Linked DNA regions of Homo sapiens. The protein of the gene in region 4 interacts with the protein of the main gene of each other region in a pairwise test. Each region holds a gene or a part of one and is shown on either strand. Other genes may lie near its edges. The genes, in order: DSCAM, ITGB3, ATF7IP, FLNB and MYBPC2.

Region 1 (4,291 bases), on a different chromosome or scaffold from region 4:
GTTGCAAATTCGACCAGCTGCTTTTCTTCATGGAATTCCATTTCTTTCTTAAAAGAATGGCTACCTAAAAACGATGGTTATGCGGTCTTTTCTATTTGTCAAACAATTTCTTACAGATAAATGAGCCCATCACTCCTACAATTACAATTGATGGTGTTTATTATAAATAATAAAATTGAATCTTTCAAGAAAGAATAGAATTTTAGAAAACTTGCATCCATCAGCATGAACTTGACAGTTTACTTGAAGACTTTCTGATGAGATCATGGTAATGTTAGTAGTTGTGATATTTTGATATTGTATAACAAATTGTATCAACATTTGGAAGATCTGTGTAACACAGTGAACCAATCATTTCCAAATGATCAACTTTTTATGTTACAAAATCATGTGTGGGTAAAACATTCCTTCCAAGGGTATGATAGACCAATGAATTTTAAGATGACAGAGTACAGAAAATGTGTTGATATGGCATCTGACTATTGCAATGAACCATTAAGATACTGCCATGTTTTAATTCTCTGCATAGTATGGAGTACCATTAGGTGTTTTCTGGTTTATTCACTTGTTTTATTTGTTTATTGTTTGTCTCTCCTGACTGAGAAGAGAGTCAATGAAGGAAAGGACCTTGCAGACCTTTTTCATTGTTGTATTCCTCAGTGTCTAGAGTAGTGCCTGGCATGAAGCAGATGTTCTGTAAATGAGGATTAAATAAATAAACACAACCACCAAATGAACCTTTATGCAGCCTGGTTTACCAAGAATATCTAGTGATTTGAGGAAATTCTCAAGACATATGGTTATTAAAAACCGATTTATAATTATGTGCAGGCATATCTAATATACAATGCACAATACATATTCTATAATATATAATGTAATGCAATATATATGCCCCGTAATAATAGTATACACATATTATTATTTCCATGTGTGTGTGTCTGTATGCGTTCTCACAAAAGTAAAACTCACAGGGTTGGTGGGAAAAGAAGCTTGGGGAAGACCACAGGAAACCTATGCAACTTTGTAACAAGGGCAACTAAAAGCCACTTATTGGTTCCTGGAGAGAGAACTTGGACACCTCAGACAGGCAGCTCAATGTGGCTAGAAGCAACACCCACAGGTTTCGGAAATAGTTTTATAACATATTAGTTCTATTCCTAGGACCCACCTCAGGTAGATTCCTTACATAATTAAAACAATTTTATTTCATATTCAGCTCAGGAAACTGACTTGTAGAATAGAAGAAATGAGTCTTTCTGAGGCTCTGCCACTAAAAGTCTGCGTATCCTTGGATGAGTCTGATCACCTTATTGTTTTTTTCTGGTAAGGAGATTGTAGTCAATTCAAATTGCAGGATCTCTAAAGATCATCCTGACAGGTAGATTCCATGACAGTCCATGTCATGATGCAAAGAATAATTTAATGAGGAAAACGTTCTGTGGCATCCTTTAAACATATAATTTCTATGTTGTTGCTTTGACCTGCTCATCTACAGAAGATAAGACGTTTGTTTGAAATCCTCATCCAATACAGAAAATCCCTTCCAGTGAAGTTCTAAGAGACCTTGCTTTTAGGAGGTTTTAGGAAAAGAAGGTTATTTATTTAAAAATTATCTGAGAGATGACTAGATAATGAAGCTAATGATGTGCTCCTTTTTTTTCTGTTGTATTGTTAACAACACATGCCCTCTGGAAAACCAAGCCAAAATTCCACCTGGAGAGAAAATCAGATCAACTAAAGTTCCTGTGAAGATTCAGTCAGTAGTAAAGAGGACATCTCATGTTCCCTGTCATTCTTCAGCCTGTACAATTATCCTGCTCTAAATAAGCAGATCTTGGATTACCCGACTTCAAATCATTGGTCTGGGAAGTAGTCGGGCTATGGAATGAGTTGTGTGGGAACCAGGAGAACAGGGCTTACCTTTCACGGTCACGTGGACGCTCTGGCTGGTGGAGAGTTGTGGTTGAACCAACACGTTGCACGTGTACTCCCCCTCGTCCACTTCCTTTTGCACATCTGAAAGTTTAAGAGTTCCATTGTTCTCAAATGCCACTTGGCGGTGGTTGAAAGGAAGCAGGTTAGAGTTCTTGTACCATTTAATGGAGTAATACGGATAGCCAATCACACGACAGTGAATGTATGTGTCCCGTCCTGCTATTGCTGTGATGTTTTTCATTGGTCGAATGCTTGCAGGCCCTGGAGAGACACAAAGAAACTCTTGAAAATAATTTAAGGGTACATCTCATGTAGGGAAATGGGTACACTTTTCCTTGAGTTAAAAATGTAGATTATATTCATGTAAGCACATCTTTTTCAGTTAAACAAATATTTTTGCATGTGGCATTTTCTACAACAAAGGTTTTTCTTTCCTTTTCTTAAATTCAAATGTATAACTGTGAAACACTTTATCTGCTACTTCTATGAAAATGTTTTGAATTAAAAATTACAAGATAAAAGGCAATTTAATTAATAGAAAGTAACTAGTCTATACTGGACAATCACGCACTTTTGGTGAACACACTGGCAGCAATTGATCAATTGTTTAACTCTCTCTGTAAAATCTAGGACGACAATGGAGGTTACATCACGTTGCAGCATGAATGTAAGTTTAATACCATGTACATGAAGGTTTACCATGAATGTGGAAGAACCGAAGAGAAGGAGAAGGGAAAGGGCATGCAGAGCATAAACCAGGAAAGGAAACATCAGGTGAACAGATCTAGAGTAAAAAAGAACAAGCTGACTACAGAAACCAAAATGCCATTTCCAACATTAACCCAGTCAGTGCCATTCCTGAGTAGGAAGGAGAGGGTAGGAAATGGGAAGCAACAGTTAATCCGCTCTGGCATTCCAAGACCCAGCTCGGTGCATGCAGAAATCTTCTTCTCCACTATAATGAGTTATGTGTGTTTTTTTGAGGAGCTGATTTGACAAGCACCTCTTACGTTTATTCGAGCCTGGTACAGGACGACTCCCGCCGAGTTGTTGGCAGTGCAGCGGTAGACTCCCCCGTCCCGGACCTGGGAGCTGGAGATGTTCAGGTAGCTGACCACGTTCCCCTCCGACGTGATCATCTGGCTGATGCGGTGACTGCCACCCTTGAGAATCGGGTCATCGTCCAGGGTCCACGTGATCGTGGGCAAAGGTGTTCCCTTCACGTTGCACATAAGGGAAACCGGCTCTGCTGGACTCACCACCTTTTCACTAAAGGCAGAAATAATTTTGGGAGTTCCATCTGCAGGAAAACAAATTATGGAAGAAAGTGGCACATACAAATAATTAAACAACTTCCAAGTATATGTCTTTCATGTCTAGGGGGTAAATGTCGTAGTTGTTAAACATTACCAAAAAGGTCTGGTTTTCCTGATAAAGCAAAACGTTAATCAGAACAAGAGTTCACTGTTTTCAAAACAGGTAAGCACAGTGTTAGCAAGCTTTCATCAACTGTTTCTATATTTCCTGATTGACTTAAGAGGAATGGTAATACAACTCAGATGTTCAGGTTAAACAATGACAGCTCCTAAGAAGTCCTTAATTTAAAACTGGTGTTTCCTCACACAAAGTTATAAACAGACGGAAAATCCACACCCGCTCACTCCCACAAACAGTCACTTTATCTGTTAGGTTGGTGCAAAAGTGATTGCAAAAAGTAATGGCAAAAACAGCAATTACTTTTGCACCAACCTAATACTTCCTCAAGTTATTTGGGGTTTTCTCACTAGGGAATTCTTTACAGGAATAAAGGAAACTACTGAGAGATTGATGACCTCATCTTCATCATTTTCTCATAAGAAATCCTCTTTTAATAACTTTAATTACAAATAGTAATTGCATGCAAACTTCCATGAAGTCTCTGAGAATGGGTAGAAGCTAAATAAAGTTTGTATTAAATGCCGTGTATTAAAAACCTCTAAAGATATCTTAAGTAGGGTACTTAAGCATGTTTTAAATCTCTCTAAAAGTATCTTAAGTAGGCTGGCCATATAATTTAACATCCAACCTGGGACACTTTTGAGGCTGAAACAGAAAGGACTAATAATTATGCCAAGAGAACAGGCATGACCCAGAACTATCGCAGGCAAACTAGGATCTTAATCTTAGAGAAGTCTCCATAGAAATTTTCAGTATGTTTACATAGATCAAATTTTCATATTCCATTATTTTTCTATCATCCATATGGTTTTTTCTCTTATATAGTAATAGTTACAAATGCATGTTTCTTTTATATATGTTTTTCCATTTATAAAAAGAAATACATGCATATTAAAGGAAATGTATGAAAATCAGA
Region 2 (4,291 bases), on a different chromosome or scaffold from region 4:
GCACCTAACCAGAGCCCATCCTATCACTTCAGTGTCCTCCTTCACCCTGAACAAAGAACAAATTGAGTACCCTTCCAAAAACCCACGGCCCCCTGGGGCTCTGGGTGCTTAAACCTGAGTATTGAAGGGGACCACGCCACCCTGGAAAGAACACTGAAAATCAGGAAAGAAGATCAATCCTAGGCCTGCCACTGACTAGTCATGTGACCTCAGATACGTCATTTTGTGTCCTCACCTGTTCAACAAGGCCTTTAGATGACACAGTGTTTTCAGTCCCTTCCGGCTCTGACATTCAGCCAATTTAGCCAACACTGTGTGGGTGCATGTCTATGAGGGCTCCTTACCAAGTTGAGGGGACCAGCCAGGAAGCTGGAAAACCCCTCCCGGGACCTATTTCACAATGTCTAGGCCTTCGGGCTCTCCTCAACCCCACCCCTACCCACATCCCCAACCAGCACTTCCAAATGTCTGCTGGATAACCCACACCAATATCCCAGAACAACTAGTGTTGACATTTATTGAACACTTACTGTATGTCAGGCACTGTGGTGAGCACTTTACATGGATTATTGCAATATGCCTGACAGTTCCATAATGCTGGAACTATTATAATTTTACAAGGGAGAAACCTAAGGTTTGGAGGCTTCACAAATAAGGAACCCAATCTTACAGGTAAGGAATCTGAGGCTTGGATAAATTAAGGAATTTGCTCAAAGTTGCAGAGCTAGGAAGTGGCAGAACTGAGAGGCCAGCTAGATTGTCTGACTGTAATTATCATCATAAAATAAGCTTTACTACATTCCGTATAGAGTGAGAGTCAAGGCACGGAAAAGGAAAAGTGTGGAAGGAATGGTCCTAGGGAGGAGCCACAACAGAGAATGCCCCAGGTAGGGAACAGGATGCAAGGTGGGCATGTGCGAGGGATGGAGAAGGATGGATGACATCTGCCTCCTCAGCCCCCTCAAGCAACCTGGCAGCCATAATGCCAGAAGAGGGACTGGGCCACAAGGAGCCATTCATACTCAAAAGCCCTGTAACCGGCCGGGTGCGATGACTCATGCCTGTAATCCCAGCACTGTGGGAGGCCGACACGGGTGGATAACTTGAGCTCAGGAGTTCCGGACCACCCTGGGCCACAGGGCAAAACCCCGTCTCCACTAAAAATACAAAAATTATCTGGGCATGGTAGTGCACACCTGGAATCTCAGCTACTCAGGAGGCTGAAGTGGGAGGATCACTTGAGCCAGGGAGGCGGAGGTTGCAGTGAGCCAAGATCACACCACTGCACCCCAGTCTGGGTGACAGAGTGAGACCCCACCTCAAAACAAAAACAAAAACAAAAAAACCCTGTAACCCAAAACCCTTCCCAATGCTTAAAGTCTCTCTCCCTCTCCAGTCCGATCCCCCTTTCATGGGCTGAAGCCTTCCCCACGTGGATGGGGACACGAGCAACATCAACAGCATGAGGACTACCCTGGCCCAGGCAAGAAGTAAGTAGAGTTTCTGGAAGCCAGCAGCTTCTCTCTTTCTCTCTCATCTTCACAGGTATGCAGGCAGGGAACCAGCCTCGGCGATGGAAATCAATGAATAAGACTTAACCTTCCTGGTGGCAAATACTCCAACAGGGACATCACAGACCTTCCACAACTCTGAGGAAGATGAAAGTCTCCCGTGCACCCAGCTCTGGCTGAGGACGGAATGACCTGGGGAGAACTTGGGCACTTCAGGTTTTGTGCCCAGACTCCTCCTGTTGTCCCTGCCCACCTCTCCTACCCCTTCCTCCTCTGGAAGCAGTCTTTCTCTTGCTCAAAAAAGCCCCAATCCTATCTCTGATTCTAGCTGCCCACAAAGCCCCAGGGAGAAAACCTTCCCAAAAAGGCAGTGGATAAATCAGAATGCAGTGAGGAGCGGATCCTTTCCAGGACCAAGACAGATGCTGAAGAAGACAGCAGGGACCGGAGCCCAGCAAACTGGATGAGAGCAGCAAGGCCTTCATGCATCTTCAGGCTCCATCAGCAGAGGGAGAGAATGCATTAGACGGGAGTTTCCTGACTCCTATTTTCTAATGTGGCAGTCCTAATGAGAAGAGGGTTTGAAGCGCTAAGATGTGCTGACAGTCCTAATGGTTTGTTATGAGTTTCCTTAGAAAAATTAAACACTGAAAAACAAAACTGCCTCCCTCCCTCCCTTTGTGGTTGCTGACATCAGAGGTCAGGAATATAACAGGCCTGCTCGTCAGCCAAGCTCTCCACGAGAGCCCTCTGTTCCAGAAGAGCACCAAGGCAGTGACCTCAACATACTTGGGCAACATTCCCTTTCTTGGTAACCCAGGCTGAGAAGGTAGAAAGAATGTCTCCAGGTTATGCAGGAAGAAAGCTAGAAGGGGGAGGGGTGGATATTAAAGTTTCAGTTCCCAGGGAAACCGGATGTTACACAAAAAGGGCAAAAATAGCCAAGACCCAGGGGAAGGGCCTGAGCACAGAGGTGGGAGGTTCCAGCCAGCGCCCTGCGAGCTGGCTGAATTACCTCCCTCTCCTGGGAGGGTGACACACGCTCTTGGTACCATTCTCCATTAATCCCATTTTGGAAATTGGGAAAGTACAACATGAATAGTTGTCATTATCCTGCCTATTTCACAGGGTTGGTCAGGAAGTAAAAGAAGACTGTGAATGTGAAATGCTTTCAAAATATAAAAATCTCAACATAAGTTAACTATACTGAAATCCATTAGGACAGAGGTTCCCAACCTTTTAGGCACCAGGGACTGGTTTCAGGGAAGACAATTTTTCCATGGACAGGGAGGTGGGGATGGTTTCAGAATGAAACTGTTCCACCCCAGATCATCAGGCATTAGTTTGATCCTCATAAGGAGTGAACAACCTGGATCCCTCCCATGCCCAGTTCACAGTAGGGTTTGAGCTCCTGTGAGAATCTAATGCCACCACGGATCTGACAGAAGGTGGAGCTCAGGCGGTAATGCTCACTCACCTGCTGCTGACCTCCTGCTGTGCGGCCCAGTTCCTAACAGGCCATGGACTAGGAATTGGAGCCCCTGCTTTAGGACACAGTATAAGCAAATAAATGCAAATATAAGTGACTCTTTTTTTTTTTTTAGATGGAGTTTCGCTCTTGTTGCCCAGGCTAGAGTAGTGCAATGGCACGATCTTGGCTCACTGCAACCTCCACCTCCCGGATTCAAGCAATTCTCCTGCCTCAGCCTCCCTAGTAGCTGGGGTTACAGGCCTGCGCCACCACGCCCAGCTAATTTTGTATTTTTAGTAGAGACGGGGTTTTGCCATGTTGGTCAGGCTGGTTTCAAACTCCTGACCTCAAGTGATCTGCCCACTTTGGCCCTGCTGGGATTACAGGAGTGAGCCACCACACCTGGCAGGTGACTCTTTTTTACAGTTACCACAATAACTACTATTATTTCATACTCTTCTTGGAGAGCGAGAGTCAATATGCCCCAGTACTTTTTTTACCCCAGAGCACCACCAAAACATCTCCCATCCATTGCTGTCTTGATTAACTCATCTGGTGAGGACAAGAAATCACTTGAACATGCAAAGAGAAAAGAATGAAGAGGGCAGAAAGGAGGAGGGGAGGAACATGAAGCATTTTTGTTTATAGTTGTTGGTATTCACATTTCATTGTTTACAAGAAGAGGAGCACTCTTAATATTATACTTCCTTTTACAATAATAAATTGGAGCAAAACTCTCAAGATGAACATTTGTCCTCCAGATTAAAAATAAATAGAAAGAAGACAAGTCAGAATAAAATTATGTTTGTGATTATAAAGAAATGTAAATCATGGCCTATATCTTGCTCCTGCAGTTGCAGAGAAGAAAATGAGAAGGAAATCCTATTAGAGTCTTCCTCTACTTTGCTAGACTCAAACTCCTTCTTCCTCTGTCACCCTTGGTTGTCAGGCTAAGTGGGAAGCTGGCCCACCTTCCAGGGTGTACTCAGGCTTATATAAGAATTCCTAGTATTTCCCTCCACTGTAGGGTTGCCAAATTTAGCAAATATTTGGGACAAACTTATACTAAAAATTATTTTTTAATTCAAATTTAAGTGGATGTTCTGTAATCTAGATTTATTTTTTAGAGACAGGATCTCCCTGTGTTACCCAGGCTGGAGTGCAGTGGCTATTAGCAGACATGATCATGGTGCACTATTGCCTCAAACTCCTGGGCTCAGAGGATTCTCCCACTCCAGCCTCCTGAGTAGCTGGGACTACAGGCACCAGGCTGGATGTTCTGTATTTATCTGGCAACCTTAACTCCACC
Region 3 (4,291 bases), on a different chromosome or scaffold from region 4:
TTGCTCAACAAGTGCCTGAAATGACAGAAGGTTATGCTATTTTCCTTTTACTACACTCATAGATGTTAGTAGCTAGAAGGAAGAGCCAGTACTGAAGCCAACTTTAGTACTTCAGCTAATAATTCTGTGTTCTGAGTATATTAAAAATTAGTCAAGAATAAAGGCATTTATTTAAGTAACATTTCAACAGGAGTACAGCAACATAAATGACATGCAACAGATTCTGTCGCCATATAAAGAGAACAGAGTACAGTTTAAGAACCAATTAAGAAACTATTCTTAAACTCAAAATACACAAAATTACCTTCAGAGGAAGGGGAAAAGATACAAAATAAAAGTTTAGTTATGAGCCAAGAAATTAAATCTATCACTAAATTTACCCTGCTAATAGCATACCATCAGATTAAAGGCAAGTAACCAAAAATATTCCCAACTTTGAATTTTCAAAGTATGCAACATGGATGGCTTAATATTCATCTCTCAGCACTTAACTGCCTTGTGTGGGATGCCCTCCAATATCAAGATTCTGACATAAAGGTACTCATTAAATCATAAGCTGCAATTTGCTTTTTTAACTTTCTTATACAGACTTTTTTTTTTTAAAGGACTTATAAGGCTTTTTTATGGACTTGGCCTAGTGCCACACTCTGTATAGACACTTATAGGAAATGGATGAAATTCATTCTCAACACTGTCACCTATTACCTTTCCAAAATGTAAATTTCATTCTCCTCTCTGCTTGAAGTTCTTTATTGGCATTCCAGCGCCATCATAAAGCTTTAGCATTATAACCAAGGTCCTCCATGATATGCTTCTCTTACATTATTGATTATTCATTCACTTTACAAATATTTACTGGGCACTTACTGTGTGCCAGGCACCGTTTTGGCCTGATGATGGTGACTCGCAGCAGGAGTAATAACAGTTGTGAATTGGACTCTAGATCTATTATGATAGTAGTACCAACAGAATTTCCTGATGGACTAATTATGGGGTGTGAAAGAAAAAATAAAAATGGTTCCAAAGTTTCTGGCCTCAGCAAGTAGGATGGAGCTGCCATTAAAAGGAATTAGACTTGGCCAGACGCGGTGGCTCACGCTTGTAATCCCAGCACTTTGGGAGGCTGAGGCAGGAGGATCACGAGGTCAGGAGTTTGAGACCAGCCTGACCAACATGATGAAACCCCGACTCTACTAAAAATACAAAAATTAGCCAGGCGTGGTGTCGCGCACCTATAATCCCAGCTACGCAGGAGGCGGAGTGGGGAGGAGAATCACTTGAACCCGGGAGGCGGAGGTTGCAGTGAGCCAAGATCGTGCCACTGCACTCCAGCCGGGGCAACAGAGCGAGACTCCATCTCGGAAAAAAAAAAAAAGAATTAGACTCATTAAAACCCTATGTTACAGCAGAGCCAATATAGCAAGACCCTGTCTCTACAAAAAAATTAAAATTTTGCCAAGTGTGGTGGCACATGTCTGTATTCCCAGGTACTCTGGGGGCTTAGGTGGGAGGATCACCTAAGCCAGTAAAGTGGAAGCTGCAGTGAGCTATGATTGTGCCACTGTACTCCAGCCTGGGCAACAGAGCAAGACTCTGTCTCACAAAACAAAAACAAGCAAACAAAAAAAACCTCTGTTATACAGATATTAAAAGGGGCAAGACATCCCTAATACATCTGGTGCTCTAATAAAGTTACCTTAATCTGCACTCCCAGAATGCCAATTTAACATTATCACTGTACTCACAGTCTTGTATTTAATGGCCTATGATTTAATTCTTGTGTGTATCCTGAGGGCAAATACTATCTTCAAATCTCTAGAACCAAGAAGGGCCTGGCCTGTCTCTTTATATAGGTTTAGTTGAATGCTCTTTGAAAATAAAAAGCCATCCTTTTTTTTTTTTTTTTTTTTTTTTTTTGAGGCAGGGTCTTACTTTGTCACCCAGGCTGGAGTAGTGGCGCGATCTCGGCTCACTGCAGCCTCGACCACCCAGGTTCAAGTGATCCCCCTACCTCAGGCCCTCAAGTACCCTGGACTACAGACAAGTGCCACCACGCCTGGCTAATTTTTGTACTTTTGTAGAGACGGGGTCTCACCATGTTGCCCAGGCTGGTCTCGAACTCCTGAGCTCAAGCAATCTGCCTGCCTCAGCCTCCCAAAGTCCTAGGATTATAGGTGTGAGCCACCTTACCTGGCCAAAAAAAAAAAAAAAGCCATTTTTTAATAAGAAAAAAATCTCTACCTCCAAAAGCTGGTATGATATATTGGGGAAAAAAGTTGTCTCTGTCTCTTAGACCTGCCTCCATTTTTTTTTCTTTGAAGAAATTAGATGGTGTTTTATGCTAGCAAGGTCACTTCTCTCAGAGATGTCTAAATCTAAAAGAATGTGATATAATGGGAAAAGAAAGGTATTCATGCTTTTCTCAGTCTTCCACAGGCTTAGAAAGTTTCATAGAGGAATAATGTTTTTCAGTTTGACCATAAAAGAAGGTAGAATTTTTCTCATTCTTTTTCTCTAGGAATAATAAATAAAATAAAAGAGATGGGAGAGATAGGTACTGAACAAATCATAAAGTTAATGTACCTTTTACATAAGGAGTTTGAAATCAACCTAAAAGTAACAGAGATCTAAGACATAGACGGACAATATCAAATAAGAGAATTGGGTTACAGGGAGCTCATTCAGAAAATGAGGAAGAGAATAGGTTGGGTAGAATCAAAAGGGCTGAGGGAGCAAATGGGTAAAGTCTTTATCAAATGGATAATCAAGCTTTAAGGTTTCTGGCTTACAACAATGGTGCTGTCATTCCTGGACAAAGAATATTAAAGAACAGGATTTCATTGGGAATATTAATTGAAAATATAATTTGTTACACTTGAAGCAAATAGATTAAACTATTAGGCTTTTAGTTCTAAGTTATTTGTTCGCTAAGTGATAGCAAGAAAGAACTGCTACAACTCTAGTCAATTATGTACTAACTTAAACTGTTATCTCAGTGTTATGGTGCTCTACTTCATCTCTATTTCCAGACTATAAGGGCATATTTTCTACTTATTTTATCTCCCTTCTTAGTATTTAGTACAATGCTACTCACAGAGTACACACACTAATTCTGAATTCTATGAAGTTAAGACATCTTTCTATAGAGTCATCACCATTCTCAACTTTCTCTGCAGCTAAAATAAATTTAAAACATTATGATAATGTTTTATTAAACAGTTCATCAAAGTCAATAAAAAATCTTTAACATTTAAGTTATATGCTAACCTGGAGAGCACGTTTCATTTTGCGATATAACTTCAGACTCATCTTTTTCACCCGAAATATCCTCTTCATCAGAGAGGACCAGAAAGGCTTCTTTTGGCAAACTCTCACTACTTTCTTGTTTAGATGGTGAACCAAAAGAACTTTCCATTTTCTCTTCCAAATCTGGATTTGTCTCATCGATTGGAAGGAGAGATGTTTTAGAAAAGCAAGTAAGTTCATCCTCAGAAGGTGCAAGCTTTTCCAAAATAGGAATGATTTCATCTGTCTCCATAGAGTCTGTATTTTCTAAGATATTCTCACTTTTGTTATCTTCAATAACATTTTCATTAATCGTTTCTACAAGATCTGCAGAAGTTTCATCTTCATTCTTTTCACCTTGGTCAATTTCCATACTGCTAGATATAGCATCTTCTCCAAGAGCAAGCTCTGTGATAATATCTTCCTCTACCTTCTTTTCATTTTCAGGAGGTCGATCTGAACAAATAGTTGTATCATCTGTTTCTAGAGTTTCTTCATTAGCATCAATATTATTATCAGCTTTATTTTTCTCATCCAATGAGTCTTTACTCTGAATTTGCTCTAATTTTTCATCAGCTCCATTTTTTTCAAGAAAATCATCATCTTTATTGCTACTTGGTTCTATATTGTCAATTTCAGGAACTGGTTCACAAACTGGTACAGACTTTGGTTCAAAGGTACGATCAAAGGTTGATTCAGAAGTCAGCTCATCAGAGGCCAGTTCACCAGTGGCCAGATCATCAGAGGCCAGTTCACTAGAGGATAGATCACCAGAGGCCAGATCATCAGAGGCTGGATCAGTGGAAGCTGGTGCTCCAGAAGCCAGATCAACAGAAGTTATTTCACTAGAGGCTATATCATCAGCGGCACAATCACCAGAAATGGGTTCAACAGGGACCGGTTCACCTGGGATGGGATCACTAGAGGTGGGATCACCAGAGGAGAGATCATCAGCAGTGGCATCACCAGAGGTGGCATCACCAGGGGACACATCACCAGAAGGGGC
Region 4 (4,291 bases):
ACCCTCCCAATCCCCCCACCCCCTACCCACCAAAGATGTGCCTGTGGAATTCACATCTTTCTATTGACATAAAATAGTCTATGTATAAGCAGTGTAAAAGTTTGGGATGACATATAATGAAATATCAAAAAATGATTCTGTGGATGAGAAAGGATGATTTTTCTATCTGAATTTTCTAATTTTCCTGCGATGAACCTACATTCTTTATGTAACAGTGAATCATGACGTGTGGAAGGGATTTACTACAGTGTTTATGGTGGTTACCTTGGGTGGTGGCTGTGAAGTGGTTTTCATAGTTTGGTATTTTTTCCAGTGTTTTGGAGGAGACACATTTTTATAAGTATAGGAAAACTTTTTGATTATTTTTCAAGTGAAAATTAGAAATCAGGGGATTTTTCAGACCCTGATCTAAACAAATACGTAAGATTTCAATATGTATTCTTTCCTGTTAGAGATAGAAAACCACCTAACATCCTAACATGCTTTCTCAACTTCTGCACGGCTCCACTCTGTGGACTTTTGTAAGTTTCAAACACTGCCCTCTGACATCTCATACTATTTACTGACATTCAAAGTTCAAAGTAGCTTTAACACATCTAAAACCATCCATAGTTTCCACTATGATTGATCTGACACAACCAGCTCCCCAGGAAGGGAGAGTAACTCCGAAGGTGGTTGTTCGTTACCTGTCACCTTGGCCTTGAAGGGACTGCCCACGATGTGGTTGGGCCCACCGTATTTGACGCTGATCAGGTAGTTACCAGGAGCCATGGGGGTGTACATGACTTTGTACCCTTCAGGTGTTTCCTGGCAATCCATTTTAACCTTGGATGGGCCTTCGATGGTGACGGATAATGTCCCTGGACCTGCTCGGGTGGTGTTAATAAAGAATTCCGACTGGATACCTGGGAGAAAGGAATAGAAAATGCTGTGTTGATGACTTGGAGGGCTTTCCTGGGAGCACTGAGGCCGTGGTGAGGGACACACATAGATCCCCTTACAGAGGGCTCACCCTGGTGGCATGGGAACCCACTGGCACTAGCTCTGAACTTCTGGCAGAGAGAACCTCAGGCCCTGCGGGGTGGGGGCTCCCTTTTCTAGGCCAAGGCAGGAGGAGCATGGCTGACATTTCGCCCACAAGCACCAACAGCCTGGACACCCTGTTCTCTCCTCTGGGCATGAGCCATTGTGGCTGAGGGCAAGAAGCCTGAGTCACACTGTGAGCCTGAAGTGCTGCTTCAGCCACCAGAGTCCAGCTCTCCCTCCAGGGGTGTGGGGGAGGCGTGGGCCCCTCTGACTGTCCTTTCTTCTCCGGGTAGACTTGGAGAAGCCAGGGAGGCCAAGCATCTCCTCCCTTCCTCCTCAGCCCTCACCCCAGGCACTGTGCTGCAGACCGGGTGCAGCCACTGTGACCTGCCAGCCCACCCACTTTGCCGTGAATTCCAGCAACAAGCACAGGAACAGAACAGCAGCTCCCGCTGACGGGGCATGCGTACCCCACTCCGGCTCCAGGTCCTGTGCACAGCACCATTTACGCATGTGGTATGGAATCCTTTCCGTGATTCCTGCTTCACAAATGACTCTGCGGCTCAGGGAGGGGGCCAGTCACGCTACACAACCAGAAAGTGGTAGAGCCGGGTTTGAACCATGTCTGCATGGCTCTGGTGCCAGGCTCATCTCTTGACCCCTGGATGGGCAGTGGAGCTGCCTCAGATCCCCTAACTGCAGCCCTGAGACAACTTAGCTGGCCCAGGGAGAGCCTCCTTCAGTCATCAGGTCTGGCGCATGCCTGCTACAGTGCCCTCTATGGGGCATGCCTGGCATAGCATCCCCATGCAGGGCTATGCTTCTGCCAGAGCCCTAGACACTGCCCCAGCTGGGAAATATTTTGGTTTAATTATAGCTCCTAGTCCAGAGAAAGAATTATTGTTCTGGATATCAATAAAAACAAAAGAGCTGCTATCGTGCAACTCTCAAACACAACCCAGCTGTTCCTGGAAGCTCTTGAGGCTCCTGCCCCAAGGTCCACCCCCAACACTATCTCAACCTCATCATGGTATCTAATCTGTGCAGCCAAGAAGCCCCTCAAGCAGCAGCTCTGAGGCCTGGGGCTACGTAGGGAAGAAGCGGGAGGTGAGCAACAAGGAGACAGTGTGTCCATCCAGGAAGCAGCTGTAAGGTGATGATAAGGAAAGATATTTTATTGATTGATTGATTGAGATAGAGTCTCGCTCTGTTGCCCAGGCTGGAGTGCAGTACCATGATCTTGGCTTATTGCAACCTCCGCCTCCCAGGTTCAAGCGATTCTCCTGCTTCAGCTTCCTGATTAGCTGGGATTACAGGCACTCGCCACCATGCCCAGCTAATTTTTGTATTTCTTTAGTAGAGATGGGGTCTCACCATGTTGGCCAGGCTGGTCTTGAGCTCCTGACCTCAAGTGATCTGCCCACCTTGGTCTCCCAAAGTGCTAGGATTACAGGCATGAGCCAACGCACCCGGCCTTATTACTAATATTTTTTTTTTTAGATAAAGTCTTCCTCTGTTGCCCAGGCTGGAGTACGGTGGCATGATCACAGCTCACCACAGCGTCAATCTTCCAGGCTCAAGCCATCCTCCTGCCTCAGCCTCCAAAGTAGCTGGGACTTCAGGCATGCACCACCACGCCTGGCTAATTTTTAAATTTTTTTGTAGAGATGGGGTTTTGCTGTGTTGCCTGGGCTGGTCTCAAACTCCTAGGCTCAAGTGATCCTCCCACCTCCACCTCCCAAAGTGCTGGGATTACAGGTGTGAGCCACTGTGCCAGGCCAAAAAGATATTTTTAAAGTGAAGTTGAAATGATGTGGCTGCAGGGGAAAGTTCCACCATTTTTTAACAAGCTGTTTCATTCCTAAGTTCGTCTTTAAAAATTTTTTTTTTTGGTAGAGATGGAGTTTTACTATGTCACCCAGGCTGGTCTCAAACTCTTGGCCTCAAACAATCTTTCTGCCTTGGCCTTCCAAAGTGCTTTGATTACAGGCATGAGCCACCGCACCCATTTGGCCCTAATGCAATATTTTGACCAACCAAAAATCAGTTCATCTTGACTGTGAGGGCCCAAAAGGGCAGGGAAGACGAGGTGGGAAAAGAGAAAGCAGGGGTTATGGGACAAGAGCTACTACTTGGCTGTTACCTCCTCTACAGCTCCAAACAAGCCTATTAGGTGGGTCCTGTTATTAATCCTGTTTTACAGGAAAGGAAGCAGAGGCACAGTGAAGTCAGATAATTCATCTGGAGTCACACAGCTGGGGACCAGCAGAACTGGGATTTAAACATAAAGTCTGTCCAACTTGGAGCTAAAGCACTTACCTGAGAGAAGATGGAAGGAAAAAAATCCACAAGCAGAAGTCTCTCACCACTGCCTCTAGCTATAACCTGTATCTGACACCACAAAACATCTCTGGGCGTGGCGGTCTTCCCCCACCCCCTCAAATATGTCCAGCTCAGTTCCTGTGAGTTTAATGCATGTTAAACGCAGCACTGCTTGTTCTTCAAGGCAGTTAAGGAAGGAGGCCCTTCTGGTATACCCCGAGCACACTGGGGTTCCTGGACCATTTCATTAGGAAAATTGCTCAGCGGCTCCAAAGAATCTGGAGCTCCCTGGTCTATCTCCCAGCCTCTCAAGCCGCCTCCAGCAGGGTCCCGCCCCAAATTCTCCACATTCCCCTACTCCAAAATCTACAGAATGGACCATTTAAAGCTTGAGCCAAGAGATACAGCAAACTCACCCATTAAAAACAGAGGGAGGTTTGCTTTGTTCAGAAGGTCAGGATACTGGGCGCTCTGGCGGCCAAGCACAGATACCTTTTCATTCCATGCACACTGCAGCTGTGTAATCTCAGAATGGATATTTAGGGAAAGGCTTGGGAGCAGGAGGGCTGGAAAAACAAGGCGCCTTCCCTGTGACAAGAGCAATATTTACACAGGGTTTGAAGCAGGCGGTTCTGTACCTCTCCCCTCCTGGCTAGGAGCTTCCCTGCAAGAGCAACTCCTTCTCTCAGCAGCGTCCAGCACTTGCAGAGCACAGCCTGAAACCCAAGCTCCCAAAAAGGTGTGCGAACAGCCAAAAGGAAATGGGAGAGGGCCCAGGCACAGCGGCATGAGCCAGCAGGAGGGTGAGATGCTTCCTGGCCAGTGTGGGAGACCCCAGCAGCTGCTGTGAGGCCTGGCCTGAAGCCTGCCACGCGCTCCAAGTGCCGAGAGGACCCCACCTGGGCCCTCAAAGGTGAGTACCTTGTCAGGGCCCAAGTGCCAG
Region 5 (3,721 bases), on a different chromosome or scaffold from region 4:
AACACACACAGCCACCCACACCCGTGCCCCAGCCCCTCTCCCCGTGACATACCAGAGTAGGGTCTAGAGAGGGACAACCTGTGCCCTGAAGGAGTGGGGTCAGCCAGGCCCAATGTCCAGTTCTCTGTAGGGCCTTGGGGGTCAAGGTGGAGCAGGGGATGATGCCAGTTTTAGAAGCTGGGGGCACTGGAATCTGTGCCCCCTCTTAGGACACCTGGCTTCCCCTGCCATTCCAGTAAGTGCAAAGTCCCTCCCCGCCCCCTCACTCCCTAACTGCAGGCCAAGGCCTCTGAAACAAACTCTCTCTCCCCAGCCCCAAGGCGTGGAAGCCAGACTTGACCCCAAGACCTCTGAACTCTGGGGACTCTGAGTCTTCCAGCATCCTTCAAGGTCACCGAATGACCAGAGATCAAAGTACCTTGCCTCAGGGCCGGGCAGATGAGATATTAAAGTTAATAAAGGTCAGTCCATTAAGAACCAACAAGCAGGCCACGAGCGGTTTCGCCTTCGTCACCAAGTCCGCGCAGCTGCCTGGCAGGAGTTTGTCCAGTACGGCTGCCTCCCTCTTCGGTTCACCACGTCTAGCTCTTGGGGCCGCTGCCAAGGCCTAGAGGCGGCCACAGCGACACAGCTGCTTCGGTAGAGTGGCCTTCTGGGTGTGGCCTGGGTGTGTCTTTGACTCGCTGCCACTGTCGTTGCCCCTAGCCTGCACCCTCCCTCCCTCCCAGCAGCTTCTCTGGGGCCGGCCTCCCCGTGGGCTTGGGTTCACCTCTGATGCTCTGTGGTTGCTGTGACAACGTGGCTGCCTCGCTAAAGTAGCTATTCCAAGAGGCCACCTCACCGCGGCCTGTGTCGACGCAGCTGCTCCCGTCGCCAACCCCGGGGTGACCAATCCCCTGCAGGAGGAAGACGGAGCTACGGAGTCAAGAAGGACAGACACTCCAGGGTCCAGACAACACTGTTTTGTTCTCAGCGAAAACTCCAGAAAGAACACAGTCCTGGGAGGTTGGGGATTGGGGTCAGGACTCCACCACCAATTGTCTTGGCAGGTAGGGGACAGGTCTCACTGCGGCACTGCAGGAAAACGAGAAAGCGGGTGAGCCAGGCCCGGGCACGCCTCCTCCTGAAGCCCCAGGAGGAGGAGCTGCATCCACATGACCAGCAGGGGGACAGGATGACGGTCACCATCCCGCCCCATCCTAGGCCACTGTGGCTGGACAACCCAGAGTCACAGTGCTCCTGATTACTGGTATTTTGGATCCCAGATGGGGACATTCTGAGCTGCTGGCTGTACGCGGTCACTGGAATCCTGAGGCTGGGATTTTTCTGAGCTGATTTAATAGTTAATCAGGGAGACAGCAGAGTATCAGAAATTGGGTGGGCTTGGAAGGGCAGTGATCTGGGGTGTTTTTGTTTGGTTTTTGAGACAGAGTCTCACTCTGTTGCACCAGGCTGGAGTGCAGTGGTGCCATCTCAGCTCACTGCAGCCTCGGCCTCCCTGGTTCAAGTGATCCTCCTGCCCCAGCCCCCCAGGTAGCTGGGACAACAGGCATGTGCCACCAGGCCCGGCTAAATTTTTTTGTATTTTTAGTAGAGACAGGGTTTCGCCATGTTGCCCAGGCTGGTCTTGAACTCCTGGGCTCAAGCAACTCGCCTGCCTTGGCCTCCCAATGTGCTGGGATTACAGGCGAGAGCCACCGTGCTTGGCTAGAAAGTGTCCTCTCTGAGCCTTTGTTAAGGGTCCCCAGCCACCCTGTCTGCTGGGCTGTCCTCAGAGCCAGGGAAGTCAGAGGTCAGAAGTCACCATCCGGGAGGGACTCTGGAAGTCCACATTGATGTCATCCTGCTCTGAGGGACACGGTTAGTGGCCTCCTCGCTGAGCCTTGACTGGCAGACATCTGATGGGCCGGAGCCCAGGGTAAAGGAGCGGGGGAATTGTGTTCCAGGAAGAGGGAAGAGCATGTGCCAAGTCCCTGTGGCAGGAAAGCCTGGCCAGTGTAACTGCCAACAGCCCGGTGTGGCTGGGACATCATGTGGGAAGAACCGGGGTGGACACACCACCGTGAACACCAGGCGGAGGGGCGCTGGGGCGGTGGGGAGTCCCCAGCGGGCTGGGATCAGGGCTGGGGCAGAGCAGCTCTGGATAGAGAGAGCTCTCTGGGGCCAGAGTCCAAGGGTGAAAGTGGCTGGCAGGAGGGAGAGACTGGAGACGGAGGCGGCTGGAAATGGAATATGGGAGGAAGAGGATGTAGCTTTCGCTGGGGCTGGAGCTGTGGGACCGAGATGAGGGACGGGGCAGGGAGAGGCAGGGGCAGGTGGGTGGGAGCATGGGGACAGGCTATGGAGGGAGGCACTCTTGGGAGCTCCCGCCACCCCTGGTCATCCGTGTTATCCATATTTGCTCTCACTCTGTCAACCCATCTGCCTACGGGGGCCCAGGTACACTGGAGGCCTTGGGGACGTTTCCTAAGCCCTTCTCACTCAGCCTTCCTCTTCCTTGTCCTTCAACTCCTTTGGAAAAATCTGACTCCTTCCCAAGCTGGGTCAGGGGCTCCCCAACCCCAACTCCTAGGATGCCCTGTGCTGCCTTCAGGACAGCAGCTTCCCAGTCCTCCTCCCAGAGGGCTGGTCTCACTCGTCTCCAGATCTCAGCGGTGCTCAGCCCGGGGCCACCGGCCAGGCTGGCACAGGGCCCGAGCAAGGGTCAGCCAGTGTTGGGGATGGCCACGCCCTCACCTCGGACCTCCAGCTTGCACTCAGCCAGCGCCTCGCCCAGCTCGTTGACGGCCCGGCAGGTGTAAGTCCCAGCGTCGAAGGGCGAGGGGCGACGGATGTTCAGCGTCAGGACTCCTTGGTAATTGGTTATCAGGAACTTGGGATCTTCACGGATTTCCATCTTGTTCTTCATCCAGACCACCTTCGGCTGTTGAGAGTCAAGGGAGAGGAGGCCAACTTAGAGAGAGACCCTGGGCAATGATGACAAAATGGGGCTCAGGAAGCCGATCTGGGTTCTAGGCTCTGCCACCCTCTTGCCAGATGTTCTTGGACGAGTCACTTCTCCCTGACCCTCAGTCTCCTCTTATGTAAAAGCAGGTTGATAATCCCACTTCACAGGGTAACGGTGGGGTCTTCCCATTGCTCTCAGGACAAAGAGCTCACTGTTTGTAGTGGCCCACAGGGTCCCACACTCTTTGACCCCCATTACTTCTCTGCTCCAGCCAAACAGGCTACCTCACTGTCCTTCAAACAGACCAGACAGGCACCCACCTCAGGACGCTGGCACTGGCTGTTCCCTCTTCCATAGTGCCCTTCCCTTTTTTTTTTTTTTTTGAGACAGAATCTCGCTTTGTCTCCCAGGCTGGAGTGCAGTGGCGTGATCTTGGCTCACTGTAACCTCCACCTCCCGGGTTTAAGCAATTATCCTGCCTCAGCTTCCCAAGTGGTTGGGATTAGAGGCGCCTGCCACCATGCCTGGCTAGTTTTTGTATTTTTAGTAGAGATGGGGTTTCACCATGTTGGCCAGGCTGGTCTCAAACTCCTGACCTCAGGTGATCTGCCCGCCTCGGCCTCCCAAAGTGCTGGGATTACAGGTGTGAGCCACCGTGTCTGGCCCAGCCCTTCATAATTTTATATTATTTATGTGACTCTGGGCAAATGTCAGTCTCCCCCAACATACAGGAAATTTCTTGTTCGAATCACCCAGGTCATTGAAAGCCTCTGA

Evidence for each region.
Region 1: the proteins of FLNB (region 4) and DSCAM interact in a two-hybrid assay, tested with the Homo sapiens proteins (one large-scale study listed by BioGRID and IntAct).
Region 2: the proteins of FLNB (region 4) and ITGB3 interact in a two-hybrid assay, tested with the Homo sapiens proteins (one study listed by BioGRID).
Region 3: the proteins of FLNB (region 4) and ATF7IP interact in a two-hybrid assay, tested with the Homo sapiens proteins (one large-scale study listed by IntAct).
Region 5: the proteins of FLNB (region 4) and MYBPC2 interact in a two-hybrid assay, tested with the Homo sapiens proteins (one large-scale study listed by BioGRID and IntAct).

What each region holds. Positions count from the first base shown.
Region 1 is NC_000021.9:40,336,178-40,340,468, forward strand, and holds part of DSCAM (cell adhesion molecule DSCAM isoform CHD2-42 precursor), read right to left. Parts: intron 3,239-4,291; coding exon 2,942-3,238; intron 2,200-2,941; coding exon 1,924-2,199; intron 1-1,923. UniProt on the Homo sapiens protein: Cell adhesion molecule that plays a role in neuronal self-avoidance. Promotes repulsion between specific neuronal processes of either the same cell or the same subtype of cells.
Region 2 is NC_000017.11:47,277,405-47,281,695, reverse strand, and holds part of ITGB3 (integrin beta-3 precursor), read right to left. Parts: intron 2,172-4,291; exon of another isoform or gene 1,840-2,171; intron 1,728-1,839; exon of another isoform or gene 1,434-1,727; intron 1-1,433. UniProt on the Homo sapiens protein: Integrin alpha-V/beta-3 (ITGAV:ITGB3) is a receptor for cytotactin, fibronectin, laminin, matrix metalloproteinase-2, osteopontin, osteomodulin, prothrombin, thrombospondin, vitronectin and von Willebrand factor.
Region 3 is NC_000012.12:14,424,450-14,428,740, reverse strand, and holds part of ATF7IP (activating transcription factor 7-interacting protein 1), read right to left. Parts: coding exon 3,268-4,291; intron 1-3,267. UniProt on the Homo sapiens protein: Recruiter that couples transcriptional factors to general transcription apparatus and thereby modulates transcription regulation and chromatin formation. Can both act as an activator or a repressor depending on the context.
Region 4 is NC_000003.12:58,165,054-58,169,344, reverse strand, and holds part of FLNB (filamin-B), read right to left. Parts: exon of another isoform or gene 3,230-4,291; intron 906-3,229; coding exon 687-905; intron 1-686. UniProt on the Homo sapiens protein: Connects cell membrane constituents to the actin cytoskeleton. May promote orthogonal branching of actin filaments and links actin filaments to membrane glycoproteins. Anchors various transmembrane proteins to the actin cytoskeleton.
Region 5 is NC_000019.10:50,463,548-50,467,268, reverse strand, and holds the end of MYBPC2 (myosin-binding protein C, fast-type), read right to left. Parts: intron 2,924-3,721; coding exon 2,737-2,923; intron 1,075-2,736; coding exon 1,064-1,074; 3' UTR 948-1,063; downstream 1-947. UniProt on the Homo sapiens protein: Thick filament-associated protein located in the crossbridge region of vertebrate striated muscle a bands. In vitro it binds MHC, F-actin and native thin filaments, and modifies the activity of actin-activated myosin ATPase.